4 linked regions of the Homo sapiens genome follow. The protein of the gene in region 4 purifies or fractionates together with the protein of the main gene of each other region. This does not show direct contact. Each region holds a gene or a part of one and is shown on either strand. Other genes may lie near its edges.

What was found. The genes of interacting proteins can lie anywhere in the genome.
Region 1: the proteins of LGALS9C (region 4) and CD47 purify together in Homo sapiens (affinity purification with mass spectrometry; 2 studies listed by BioGRID and IntAct, with this or other methods). This does not show direct contact.
Region 2: the proteins of LGALS9C (region 4) and CD58 purify together in Homo sapiens (affinity purification with mass spectrometry, with the first as the bait; one large-scale study listed by BioGRID). This does not show direct contact.
Region 3: the proteins of LGALS9C (region 4) and SLC26A6 purify together in Homo sapiens (affinity purification with mass spectrometry; 2 studies listed by BioGRID and IntAct, with this or other methods). This does not show direct contact.

What each region holds. Positions count from the first base shown.
Region 1 is NC_000003.12:108,081,032-108,084,531, forward strand, and holds part of CD47 (leukocyte surface antigen CD47 isoform 1 precursor), read right to left. Parts: intron 1-3,500. UniProt on the Homo sapiens protein: Adhesive protein that mediates cell-to-cell interactions. Acts as a receptor for thrombospondin THBS1 and as modulator of integrin signaling through the activation of heterotrimeric G proteins.
Region 2 is NC_000001.11:116,543,527-116,547,026, reverse strand, and holds part of CD58 (lymphocyte function-associated antigen 3), read left to right. Parts: intron 1-66; exon of another isoform or gene 67-149; intron 150-2,202; exon of another isoform or gene 2,203-2,326; intron 2,327-2,422; coding exon 2,423-2,716; intron 2,717-3,500. UniProt on the Homo sapiens protein: Ligand of the T-lymphocyte CD2 glycoprotein.
Region 3 is NC_000003.12:48,625,462-48,628,961, forward strand, and holds the end of SLC26A6 (solute carrier family 26 member 6), read right to left. Parts: intron 3,254-3,500; coding exon 3,161-3,253; intron 3,081-3,160; coding exon 2,973-3,080; coding exon of another isoform or gene 2,954-2,972; intron 2,578-2,953; coding exon 2,485-2,577; intron 1,612-2,484; coding exon of another isoform or gene 1,595-1,611; coding exon 1,415-1,594; intron 1,225-1,414; coding exon 1,170-1,224; intron 894-1,169; coding exon 757-893; intron 540-756; coding exon 525-539; 3' UTR 262-524; downstream 1-261. UniProt on the Homo sapiens protein: Apical membrane anion-exchanger with wide epithelial distribution that plays a role as a component of the pH buffering system for maintaining acid-base homeostasis.
Region 4 is NC_000017.11:18,486,789-18,490,288, reverse strand, and holds part of LGALS9C (galectin-9C), read right to left. Parts: intron 3,390-3,500; exon of another isoform or gene 3,373-3,389; coding exon of another isoform or gene 3,349-3,372; intron 2,643-3,348; coding exon 2,532-2,642; intron 1,349-2,531; coding exon 1,253-1,348; intron 1-1,252. UniProt on the Homo sapiens protein: Binds galactosides.

The sequences.
Region 1 (3,500 bases), on a different chromosome or scaffold from region 4:
CCCCACATTTCATTGACACTACAGAACAACAGTCTCCAAATGTATATTATGGGTATTCTTCCTCCAAGAAACCACAAAACGGTGAAAAAGCTAAGTAAGATGCAAGTTGAAACCAAGAGCAGTTACTGCTAATAAGCATCCTATCTACGCTTCTCAATAGGATAAACTACCAGTTGTTGCCTTATAGAAGAGGCACTGGGTAAATAAATGTAATCACTCATTGTTCAACTAAAATGTACAAGAATGTGTAGGAATTGTAGTTGTCTTCCATATTCTTCAGCCACTCAGCAACTCTTTTACCTAAGTAGCTACTTGGCCTTCCCCTCAAAACATAAACAAAAACAAAACACAAATTACTAACAAATATAAATAAAATATCAACTTTGTTAATAGTTCACACTTAAGATTTACTTCTACATAAACTGGAATAAAAATCAGAGGCATAGAATGTTTCTATTGTAAGAACACTATGTTTACTCAATAAATACCCCATGAATTGAATGCAAGGATGCATACTGGAATATAGGTACTGGACAATGTTCAAAACACCTGAGTAAAAATACTATTTCTGCCCCTTTTTAATATGCTGCCTTAAGCAACTCACTTTTCTATGCCTTGGTTTACTCTCTAAAATAGGAGGATCTCTTAAGTAGGAGGATCAAAAACAAACACCGGGCTACTTCACAGAACTGTGTTGAGCATTAACATGGAAAACATAGCGGCAAGTGCTCTCTAAACAATACTATGCTGTAAAAATGTAGGGTGATACTATAAAAACTAGATAATCTGGCATTTTAATGTAATGATATGGGCCCTCTTTGACTAGTCCAAATTGTTATATTTCTGGGAAATTGCAGTCTGAACCTATATTGTGGGCATCCACAGCTCACCTCTTCCCAGTTTTCTACATTTCTAGCCACCCAAATACTAGGAAGCCCAAGGCAAAACCTGGACTTCCGTTGCATTCTTTAAAACTTTGGAATTGTGAATTATTTCCCCTGAGAGAGAAACACTGAGGGAGAGAGGACATAGTATACCAGAGAAGAATAAAGGGGTGAAGATGTTCAAATTATAAAGGAAGGAAAGTATCAGAAAATATGGTGAAGATTTTGAAAGGGATACAAAGACTACTGGGTATCCTTTCAGTCAAGTGCTGGGCAATGTCTAACAGACGCTTTGGAATTATCTGACTCTATAGAAGCCTGTGCCTTTCACTGACTTTGACTGGGCTGTTTTACAGTTTCATAAGTTGTAGAAAACTGAGAGTAATTCAAATGGATTGCTGTCCATACAGATAAAAATAAATCTTGTTCTGCAATTGATTTCCACCTGGTGGAAGAGAGGATTCCAAAAGACTACATTTTACTGCCCTGAGGATATTGACCAATTTTGCATTTATTAGCAAATTCATTTAGGCATTCTTGATTGCCTATAAATGTGTCTGTTTTTCCAATTTTCTTTTAAAAGGGTTTTGCCTTCTTGCTAGTTTGCTTGTTAATTAATTAGTGAAATAAAATCTTTGACACATGTTCATTTTATATTTGTATGAATCATGGTTTGACTTTCAAGAGATTATTCTTAAAAAAAAGAGGTACGAATGAAGAACTCAGTCATCCTATGAAACTTTTTGCAAAGGCTTTAATTAAGTAAGTAAGAAGTAGTTGGTGAACAATCCACCATTTCATAACATATGTTTAGAGAATGAATTTTCAAAGGAATACAGAAAGCAATAATTATACTGCATTATTTGTTACAATAAAAACATTTTATAGCTGAAGCAATTTAAGTAGAATAAATGCTATTAGTAAAAATAACAGTAAAATTGACCTGGATAAACCACAATTTGAATAACCTTTGCACTAGTAATTAATAAATAAGGGCAGGCCAAAAATATCACTCTAGCTGTTAACTACAACTTCAATCTCTATAAAGATGCATTAAAAAACTATTAAGTAGTAAAACTGTCTGATTTGGGGTTTTTTCCTTTTGCCTACTCCCTTCTCATAAAACAGCAAAGTGAAGAAACTATTTAAAATGTAGAGAGCAAATAAAGAAACACAGATAATTAACATGAATAAGAAAACTCTGAATAAACAAGATATGCTTATAGCAGTCTAAATCAGATAGCAGCAGACAAATGTAACCAAGAGTAATGCCAGAGTTATAGATAAATTAGCAAATAAAATGGGAAAATGATTTTATATCAAATGCCAAAAGTATTAGACTTGAAACCTTCATTGGAACTGTACAAGTATTGGTGAATATAGACTATCAGCCCAAACCATCTCATATCATAGTCTAGAAAAGAGCTTTGTAGTGGCAGAGAAGACTCAATCCATGGTGGTCACAGCACACAAGTTCAGGTTAGAAATTTTAAAAATGCAATCAACATTTGTCAAGAATTACCTGTGATGAAATATTGTGATAGGATGTGGGGATATAGTGATGAAAAAATATAGTTATTATCTTTTAGGAGCTTACAATTCTCAAATGGGCGATGATAAGTATATAATACAAGGTTACAAGTGTTATCTTTTCTGCATGGACAACGTCCTTATGGATGGGCAGAAGAGTAATTGGTCTTACAGATTTCTAAGAAAATTCATGTTGCTAATAGGCAAAAACAGAAGAATGTCATAGTCCCTGCTCCTCCGGGCCTTCAATCTTTACCATTTTACATATTTCATGTAAATGTTCGCTTCTTTTTAACAACTCTTAAATTACTCCCTTCTGCCCTTTATCCCATACTCTCCAACAGTCCTCTCTCCCTATTTCTTAATACAAACTGAAACCTTCAGAGGAGAATCCTGAAGCTTCCAATACTCCTTCCCTATAAACCTACCTGTAACCCCAACTATCCACACCTTTTTTTTTTTTTTGCTTCCTTTTCTGAAATGAATCCCATCACCTGAAAGCTAGTTTCCATTTCTGCCTCCATACCCATCAGTCTCCTCAACGACTTTCCTTAGTTGATTATCAGCCTCCCACATCCCCCATTCCATTTACAAGGTGTTGTTTTTGTGTGTGTCTTTAAAAATTGCTTGAATATTTGCCAACTTAAAAAAAATCCCTCATACTTTCTCTCTCCCTAGCATCCCAAATTAACAATCTATAAGCATTTCCTCACTTCCAATTCACTCCTTAAATCTGTTACGTGGCCTCCACCCATTCACCCCTACTTCTTCATTACTACAGCTCTTGCCAAAGTCACCACCAATCCCTTGTGAAAAATCAAATATGCATGGTTCACTTTCTGTCTTGACTTTTCCACAGTTCTTGAGCCAGTGGGCAGTCTCTTTCTTGCTCTTCTCTCTTGGCCTCCATGGTATCTCCTGATTACGAATTTCCTCCTGCTTTGTCCACCCCATCCTAGTTTGCTTTCTTTGTTGAAATCTATTCCTTGACTCACACTAAATGTTAGTGTCCCTAAGGGCTTCAGATTCAGTACCCTCTGCCCCCTAGTATTTTCCCTGACTCCCATGGTTTTCTTCACCTGCAAA
Region 2 (3,500 bases), on a different chromosome or scaffold from region 4:
ATTGAGATAATAGTAATAAAAAAATTTAAAAAAGAAAAAAAAGCATAAGGAAGAAAATATACTTACTAAGTGAAAGTGGATCATCAAAGGTCTTCATCCTCATTATCTTCACGTTAAAGCAGGCTAAGTGGGAGGAGGGGTTGGTCTTGCTATCTCAGGGATGGCAGAGGCGGAAGAAAATCCACATGTAAGTGGACCCACACAGCTCAAACCCATGTTGTTCAAGGGTCAACTGTACTTTGATTTCTTCTGAGCTGCAGTCTCCCCTTTCTCTACCCTCACTTCCCTCCACCACTAGCTCCATTCCTGACTACTTTCTTCTACTGTTCTCAAGCCCAGGATACATCAGCTCTCCCTGGGAAAGACAAAAGACATCTTCATGCCGCCAGGGTATGGCAGTTTATCTCATACCTACTCTTTCACCACCACCCTGCCCTCTATCACTCATTGTTTCATTTACATTTATAAGACATTTTTGAGTTTCCACTATTGTGTGTGGTAGACTCTCACCCCTTGAATTCTGTACTTTTTCTTGTGCCTTCCCACATACTCTGTTGAGTGGAGGAAATAATGCATAATCGGCAAAGCAATGGAAAGATGCTGGTGTGTTTTTGAGGGCAGTTCCCCTTAATTAAGGGAGATGGGTTCTAAAAAGTCCTTGTAGATAAACAAATGGGTGATATTTGCTTCTTATCTGAAATTACTAACACAGTTGTCTACAACTGGTCATTCAGTGTTCTTGATTTCCCCTGTATTATTTCAATTACCCTAATTGCTACTAGGCAAAAACTTCAGTCAAATTTTAATTGCTCTTTAATGTTAACTTAAAATAGCTGCAGTTTTTTGTTTGTTTGTTGAGACAGGTCATGCTCTGTCACCCAGGCTGGAGTGCAGTGGCACAATCATGGCTGACTGCAATCTCTGCCTCATGGCTTCAAGTAATCCTCTTCAGCCTCCCAAGTAGCTGGGGACCACAGGTGTGTGCCATGCCCAGCTAATTTTTTGTACTTTTCGTAAAGATGGGGTTTCGCCATTTTACCCAGGTTGGTCTTGAACTCCTGAACTCAAGCAATCCAACCACCTTGGCCTCCCAAAATGCTGGACTTACAGGCATGAACCACAGGACCCAGCTGCTGTTCTCTCTTAACAAGAGACAAGTCCTAGAGCAAGATGCATTTAAACCCACTTTGGGGTATCAAAAATATCCCAATCTTGTGGTTCTAATAAATGTTTAACAACTAGGTTGGTATGGAGGTTCTGATGTGAAGCATTAGTCAGTTTCTGTGCTGTTACTAGATGTTCCCTAATAGGGCTGGGCAGAGATGCTAACAATTGGCTCATGAGGGCAGGTGGACCTGGCTCCAACCCACCACTGCACCCAATCCCTGAGTTCTTAATCTTCATCACACCCTCGACTTGCTTCCCAGCCATTGTTTCTGATCTCAGTTAATGATGCCTCTCAGTCAGCCAAGGAGACCTGACAGTCCCATCCACTTCCCCCACCCTCATCACTGAATCCTGTTGACTTCTCTCTCCAGCATCTCCTGAGTCTGTCCGCTTGTCTGTCCCCACTACAAACACCCTGCTCTGGTCTGTCCTGTCCATGGACTTCATTGCTACAGCATTGACTTTCATTATAATTTCCCTGCCTCTGTGCTGGCCCCTGTCAGCCGCTCTCTACTCTAAAGACAGTCAGCCTGCTGACACTTAAATTATGTTAGGCCAGTCTTGTTAAAAACCTTTCTGTGGCTTCCTCTCCATTAGGATCAGTCCAAACCCTTAGCGTTCCTTACTTTAGCACACATAGGCTGTGGGCTGGCCTTTGTCTGTCTTGTTCCCCACCAGCCACCCCTTGCCCTCCTCATTCTAGCTGTTAGGAATCACGTGTGTATCCTCAAGCACACCATGCTCTTTCTCCATTCAGGGCCTTCCTTTGGGGGTGCTGCTTCCTATATATCTGTATGATCATCTCTTCTTCCACTCCCCACCCACTCACCTACCCAGCCCTGCGGCCTAACTGCCTTTTATCCTTCAGTGATTTGCACGTTATGTCAGTTCCAGCATGACTTCCTTGGGGAGGCCCTAGACCAGGCAGCTCCCCTCATGCAGCCCCTGATGTAGAGCCTGCTCCCTGTCTTCTCCACACGTGAGGCTCCTGGAGGGCCTGGAACAACCCCATATTCCCAGCCCAGCCCGTACTACCTGGCAGATGGTTGGTGCTCCATGAATGTCGGGTCCATTTCTTGGATTTATGCAGGTCCCAGTTTTCTATTAAAGAGTAAGCTCCACATGGTCAAACATGTTCTTACTTCCTGTATTTTGTGTCAGCAGTTTGTCAGCTTAGCACAAAAAGTACCTGATGAATAATTTCTGCCACCAAAGTCATGTTGTTTTTTCTAACCAATTTTTTTTTCTCTCCTAGGTTTCATCAGCTGTTTTTCCCAACAAATATATGGTGTTGTGTATGGGAATGTAACTTTCCATGTACCAAGCAATGTGCCTTTAAAAGAGGTCCTATGGAAAAAACAAAAGGATAAAGTTGCAGAACTGGAAAATTCTGAATTCAGAGCTTTCTCATCTTTTAAAAATAGGGTTTATTTAGACACTGTGTCAGGTAGCCTCACTATCTACAACTTAACATCATCAGATGAAGATGAGTATGAAATGGAATCGCCAAATATTACTGATACCATGAAGTTCTTTCTTTATGTGCTTGGTGAGTATTCCATAAGTTGATTTGTTTAAAATGGCAAATTTCCATTTTTTTAGTCTGTTTTCAGAGACTAGCACAAATTAATGGTCTATGAGAAAAGAATTAGATGTTACCTGTTGTCAGGGTTTTCTCCTTTTCTGGTATAGAGGAGCTAGCTACTTTCAATTCCTTTGTCATTCCTCTGGGTGAGGAGAGAATCTAACCAAGGTGGGGAGAACAGTATCAGTTGTCTTACTAGGAATGTTTTGGAAAGAGATGTAGTGACAGCAGTTAGCTTAGAACTCTTTGGGCTCCACTGATAGATGTTACTCTATAAAGTTCCTGCTTCCCCACACAGCGGGGAGATTGTTTTTCCTCCTGCACCATTTTATTTAATTAATTTATTTATTTTGAGAAGGAGTCTCACTCTGTTACCAAGGCCAGAGTGCAGTGGCACAATCTTGGCTGACTGCAACCTCTGCCTCCCAGGTTCAAAGTGATTTTACTGTCTCAGCCTCCCAAGTAGCTGGGACTACAGGCCCGCACCACCATGCCCAGCTAATTTTTGTATTTTAGTAGAGATGGTGTTTCACTGTGTTGGCCAGGCTGGTCTCAAACTCCTGAGCTCAGGTGATCCACCCGCCTCAGCCTCCCAAAGTGCTGGGATTACACTCATGAGCCACCACACCCAGCTCCTGCACCATTTTAAACTGAAACTAGAGAGAGGGGACACATTTCTCCCTGCTTCTCACTGACACTCCTCCCTGGTCTCTAAAGCCCCTTTTGTGTTGCAGTCTTGTATAGGCCC
Region 3 (3,500 bases), on a different chromosome or scaffold from region 4:
CCTGAGAGCAAATTATTCCTGAGAAGCAGCTCTGGTTCCAACTGTTTCACATCTGAGGAGACAGCGAGTGAGGGCTATGCATGGCTGGGGAGAGACCTTAACAGGGGATGCCTCCACAGCTCCCCTGCTCTGTACCCTAACCTCCCGAGTCCTTCCTACACCTTCTGCCCCGTCTCACCTTCAGGGCACAGGAAGGGTCAGCAGCCACAGCTGTGGACCACCCACCACCAGGGCCCCACCAAGCCACAGCAGAGACTGGAGTTGAGCAGACAAATCTTTATTCCTGAGGCTAAAATATGCACCAGTTCCCTCCCTGTACCGCGCCACTGCCAGCCTGACTGCATGCAGGCCCTGTCCCAGACCTGGAGCGCTGAACTTGGAGTCCCAGGACCTCCTTCCCTGAGTTGTGTGTGTGTACATGGAGGGGACTCCTGGGTAGCACCTGGAGGCGGCCTAGGGGTGAGGGGCTTCTCAAGGGTGCCCTGCACCTCCAGAGGTGCAGTCTTGGGCAGGATGTAGCATGTTCAGAGTCTGGTGACCTGAGCAGGCAGAGGAGGGGAGGCTCTAGTCAGTTTCCAAAGGACACAGACCAACCCCCGCCCCTAGAACAGCTTTATCCAAAGACAGCGGAGAAAGCACTGGGCCCACTGGGGACAGAGCCATGGCCACCAGGAAAGACTCCCTGGAGCTGGGGCCAGGGTGGGGACAAGCAATAGATTAACAAAAAAGAGCTTGGCAGGCCAGAGGTAGGCTCACCGAAACAGGGCTGTCGGGGACAGGCCTCGGGTGTTGGAGGGCAAAGGTGACAGCATCATGGACAGAGGCAAAGAGATGCTTCTTGGTGATGGATGCATCGAAGAAGTGCCCAGCCTCAAGCTGGCTGACCACAGGGCCTGTGGGCAAGAAGTAGGCCTCCCCTGACTCTCAGAACCTCTAGGAACTCAACTCCCGGGAGCCAACAGAATGCCCTGACCTCATCACCCCTGACCTCCACCCCTGAGGCTACAGCTGAATCCACATCACTTGTAACCCTGGACTCCTGTCTCCCAGGACACCTCTGACCTCCAGTTCCAGAGAAAGACTTTTTCCTTGTGCTACTTGGAAAACCCCTTGGCCAAAAGTATCCTACCCTCTTCCCAGGTCCCTCCTGCTGTTCCCACCCTACTCACTGTGGCAGGCCGCCATGTACACCTCCACCTCAATCTCCCGGAAGTCATGGAAAATCTGTAGCGGAAAAGGGGGCCAGCCTCAGAGGGAGGCTCAGGGACTCAGAGGGGGGCTCGGGCAGGCTTGGGGAGGGAGTTTAGAAGGGGAGCTTTGAGGGTTTGGGGAGTCAGAGGCTGGGAGTGCTCTCAGGGCAAATTACAGGGTCAGTGTGGAAGCTCGAGGGGCCTTGGCCTGCCCCCGTCCTTACATTCTTCAGGCTCTTGAGGCACACAGTGTCCACAAAGGAGAGGGCACCCAGGTCCAGGATGAGGCTGTGGAAGTCTGGCTGAGGCAGGCCCAGGGCCTTCAGTGTGGACCCATCTGGGGCCTTGGAGTCTTCTTGACCATTGGCTGTTGCATCTTCCATCTTATCTCCTGAGCTCACCTGCTGGGGAGCCAGACATGCTGCCAGGGCCACCCATGAGAGAGTGAAGGCAGGACTGGCCGCACACAGACACGCGAGAACACGCAAGGTCAGATGGGGAGCATGCATGGGACACATAAGGACACAAACATGCGGGAGTCACATAGGTGTGCAAAGACAGGAATGACAGATGTGTGGGGACATGCAGGAGGGCACACCCAGATGTGCATATACTGCTCTGCTACCTCCTGGGCCGACGCTGCACAGGGACACGAGAAGGGAGTCCCTGTCCCATTCTCATCAGCCAGGGCTGAGTGGGGAGGGGGCCCAGGAGCAGGCCAGAATAGACACGGGCATCCACATGAAACGCATGCAGACACCTCGGCACCCTGCCCTGTCTCAGTCTCTAATTAAGTTTGGCATCCTCTTTGACCCCTCAATTTTTTTTTTAGAGACGGGGTCTCGCTTCATTGCCCAGGCTGAATGCAGTGGTTATTCACAGGCACCATTAGAGCGCACTGCAGCCCCGAGCTCCTGGGCTCAAATGATTTTCCCGCCTTAGCCTCCCGAAGAGCTGGGACTACAGGCGCGTACCACCACGCCTGCCTTTGACCCCTTGATTTTCTCCCATATACCCCATCCCTTTCCTCTACCCATGAGCAGACTCTGGGGGAAGTCTTGTGGGATCTACAAATTCAAGGTCTTCATCTAGGCCTGAGAATCTAAGCCTAGATTCTGTGGCATATCACGACGCTCCCTGAAGAATATCTGACCCAGCCTCCCCACTCCTCCTGCCATCGGCGCAACACCCTCGAGCCCACAGCTGCTGGGTCCATGGCATTCCTCATGAGACATGTGGATCCTGCATCTCTGCAGCTCACAGCTGTCACCTCCTTTCCCACCTCCAGTCTCACCATCATCTTGCAGTCCTCAACGTTGTTGCTCCTCATGTCTTCAAGGCTGGTGTTGACATTAATGGAAACTGAGGCGCCCTTGGGGGAGGCAGCCTACACCAGGGAAGACAGGGAATGGGAAACAGCTAGCCCGGCTGCCATGACAGCCATGTCACATAGGCCTGGTGATGCCCCCTGGTGCTGGGCAGGTGGGTGGGCCAGGACCAGAAGCTGTGGGACCTGCAGCAGCCAGGCTGAAGCTCCTGGAACAGCCGTGAAAGGGAAGAGGACTGTGACGGTTCTCACTGTCACTGGTTCAGATGATGGGAGAGAAAATGCTGCCTAGAGCCCGGACCTGCTAGGGGAGTGAAGCAGGGTCCCTGGGAGCATGAGGGAGAAAGGGGAAGGGATGAGGAGTGAGGACGAGGGAGGAGTCGGGGGCCAGGAGAAAGGCTGGGGCAGGGAACAGGGGGCAGGAGATGGGGGTCACCAGACAAAAGGGGCCCTGCCTGTTTCCGAAGCTTCTCCTCTTTCTGCAGTTGCTTCAGCTTCAGCTGCTCCTGCTTCTTGAGCAGTTTCTTCTTCTGGGAGATGAGGAAGTCGACATCCACACCACACTGGAGGCAAACATCAGAGAAGGGTTGGTGAGCTCTCTGGGAGCTGGGGCCTGACACCCATCCTGGGGACTCCGTCTCACCCTCTGCTTCAGCGCATCACTGTAGAACTCAGCATTGGCAAAGTACACGGTGGCCGAGGAGCGGAAGACCTTCACCCCCCGGACTTCCTTGGCCTGGGGATGAGGCAGAACTGGTGGTGGCTGAATCTCCTCTCTCCTGGCTGCATCCTGTTCTCCTGCCTTTCCTTCCCTAGTGTGCCCAGTGCCTGCCACCGCCCAGCCCTCTGCTCCCCAGGCTGCAGTCCAGGCCCTCCCAGGGGCTTAGGCCACAAGCCCGACGGTGTCATCCCCATCCCCCCACAGTGCCTCTCCCTCCCCACCTCTCCTGCCACCACCCAGGCAGGCTTCACAGGCTCTTAAC
Region 4 (3,500 bases):
TTAAGCAACTTGCCCAAGCTTGCCCGGGTGGAAGGGATCAAATCCAAAATGGCAGCCAATTCTGTCTGACTGTATCCAGCACACTTTCTGTCATCCCTAGGGCCAGGGCCAGCGCCAGGGCCAGGGCCAAAGTTTGGCTGCCCTGCGAATGTTCCCTGGGGCTCCACCAGTCCTGAAGTCAGCGTGGCAGGAGGCAGGTGCACTGTCTGTACCATCATGGGCCATAAAAAGGCTACATAGACAAAGCGCCCCTCCTCCCAGTCCCCACTGCTTGAGTGGCCAGAGGAAGGGCTGCCCACCTCCTTGTCGTGGATCCTGCCCCACCCAGTAGACTGTTCTTGCCCTGGCTGGTATCCCATTCTCCCTGGCTGCGAAAACCACATTCCACATTCATCCATTCTTCGAGTCCCTAAGTGAGTGCCAGGCACTGTGCAAATGAACGACCCACAGTCCCAGCCCTCTGGGGCCTCATGGGCATAGGGAGATGGGGGTGGAGTGACAGGGACAGACACGCAAACAGTTACAATGGGGTGCTGTGAACTGGCATGGCACAGATATGTACAGACTCCGTGGGGGCATGGGGGGAGCATCCAACAATATTCTGGGCAGGGAGGACTCCCAGAGGAGCGACACTTTGGCAGAGCATGGAAGGGCGATTAGGCGTGTGCTGAGGGCAGGCTGGCAGAGGGTGCTTCCGGGACCAGGGACAGCATATGCAAAAGCATGGTGGCCCGAGAGGGCCTTGAGTGAGCCGTGGAGGTTGCATGAGCTTCGTGGGTTGGGGGTGAGGCAAGGAGGTGGACTGGGGCCAGACTGGGGAGGAATTCGTATGCCCTGCTGGGGAATTTGGGCTTTGTTTAAAGGGCTGGGGACTTTTAAGATTTTTAAGCAGGGAGAGAGTGTGATCAGATTTGCTTATAAGAAGGTCACTGTGGCAGCGGTTGGGTGTGGGGGGTGGGGAACTGGACCCCTGTAGTCATGGTGAGGAATCCCAGAGGCCTGGGCCACATCGGTGGCTTTGGGAGGGAGATATGTTGGTGCCTTGGAGAGACATAAAGAAAGGGTAGTGAAGAATCCAGGGCAACACCCAGGTCCCCGGCTCTGGGTGCCCAGCAGACAGAGACAGGGAACTCTTGAGTGGGCAAGATGTGGCCCATAGGCCCTGGTGGCCTGCTGGCTGGGGCCAGCCTCTCAAACCCTCGGTCCTTCCTGCTGTCTGCTCAGCCACCCAGGGCCTCTGTGTTGAACTCACTTTTTGTCTGCGCCCCCTGGGCCTGGGTGGGAAACAGACAGGCTGGGAGAACGGCACCGTGGAGAAGGCAGGCTGAACGGGGACTGCGCGGGGATTCTGTTAAAACAAAAGGCACCGGCCGGTGAGGAGAAGCATTAATAGAGCCAAGGAGAAGCCGAAAGGCAGATGCAGGGGCAGGAGGCAGAGAACAGGCAGGCAGGGGGATGCAGCAAGGGGGTTAGGGCCACACGGAGGCGGGAGCGGAAAGGGCCAGGCTTCGGTGAGCAGCGCAGGGGGACAGTCTCCCTCCAGCTCTTCCCTCCCCTTCCACCCGCAGGGGAGAGAGTCAGGGAAGGAGGGAATGAGAGATGAGGACCAAAGGGTGAGGAGCCCAGATTTGCTGAGGGCCTACTGTGCACTTCGCTCATCTCAGGGAGCTCCCTTGAATGCCAAAAGGGTAACAGCAGCTCCCATCCAGCTGCCGGTGCCCTGTGGGAATGTGGGCCCAGCATACCCTAATCTTCCCATTTTTCACGTGGTGTTGGTATCTCCTGACCTTCTTTAGTTTTATTTATTTTATTTTATTATTCAAACAAAAAGATTTTAGAGATGGGGTCTTGCTATGTTGCTCAGGCAGAACTCTAATTCCTGGGCTCAAGCGATTCTCCTGCCTCAGCCTCTTGAGTAACCAGGATTGCAGACCTCCACCACCATACCTGGGTCTCCTGACCTTTTAGATGTTGGCAACGCATTCAAAGTTTTTAAAACACAGAGGTCACACAGACCCTGGTGTGGGCCCAGGGGCGCCATTGTGTGACCTCTGATATCTGTCTCCTCAATGAATCACACAACCACCCATGGGGGGCAGGCAATGACCATGCTCATTCTACAGATGACAAAACTGAGGCTGAGAGAGGCAAAGTTGCTTGTCTAAGATCCCACAGATGACGAATGGCAGAGCTGGGAATTTGAACTGGATTCAGTTTGGTTCTTGAGCCTGGGCTCTTTCTAGAACAATATGCCCTCCTTACCAGGATGGAAATTGACGGATGAAGAGAAAGGGGCAGCTGAGGAGTCTGGGAGACCAAGGCAGGTGTTCCAGACAGAGACAGTGACACAGAAGGAGGGGCAGAGTGACAGAGGAGAAGGGGCGGGCAGGTACTGGGACAGGGAAGCAGAGGTTGTCCCCAGAGTGACCTGGGTAGGAGATTGGCTTGGGTCCCCCCAGCTGGGCCTAAGCACAGCTACGCTGGGCCCTGCATCCCAGCCCCTGGGACCGGTGCCAGGTGGACAGTCTGACCTGGAAGCTGATGTAGGACAGCTGCACAGAGCCATTGACGGAGATGGTGTCCACACGGTGGAAGGGCACGCGGTGGAAGTACTGCACGAAGAGGCTCCCGTTCACCATCACCTGCCAGAGGAGAGCACGTATTTCGGGGGAGGTGCCCCAGGCCGGGATGGGGACCACCCCTGAGCTCCTGGTCCCTCCTTCTAAAAAATGAAGACCTGAGTCTGGTCTTCAGTGTGGGGCCAGTTACAGGGACGTGTGTGTGGCCCGAAGTGCATCAACCGGAGTCTCTACTGGGCTCCAGTCGGGCTTTCCATTCTTCTGGTTGTTTCCTTCCCCTTTCTTCTCACTCCTCGATTTCCAGCCTGGTTAGGAGGCCATATTGTTCCAGAAAGAGCCCATGCTCAGGAACCAAACTGAATTTCCTGGGGTTTCATTTATTTATTATTTTTCCTTCAACTTTTTTTTTTTTTTTTTGAGATAGAGTGTCACTCTGTCAGCCAGGCTGCAGTGCAGTGGTTCAAGCGATTCTCCTGCCTCAGCCTCCCGAGTAGCTGGGATTACAGGCATCCACCACCACACCAAGCTAATGTTTGTATTTTTAGTAGAGACGGGATTTCACCATGTTGGCCAGGCAGGTCTTGAACTCCTGACCTCAAGCCATCTGTCCTCCTCACCCTCCCAAAGTGCTTGGATTATAAGGGTGAGCCGCCGTGCCCAGCCCCTTCAACTTTTATTTTAAGTTCCAGGGTATGAGTATAGGATCTGCAGGTTTGTTAACTAGGTAAATGTGTGCCACAGTGTTTTGCTGCACAGATCAACCCTTCACCTTGGTATCAAGCCCAGCATCCATTAGCTAATCTTCCTGATGCTCTCCGTCCCCGACCAGGCCCCAGTGTGTGTTGTTTCCCCGCTTGTGTCCATGTGTTCTCATCGTTCAGCTCCTACTTATAAGTGAGAACTTGCGGTGTTTGGTTTTCT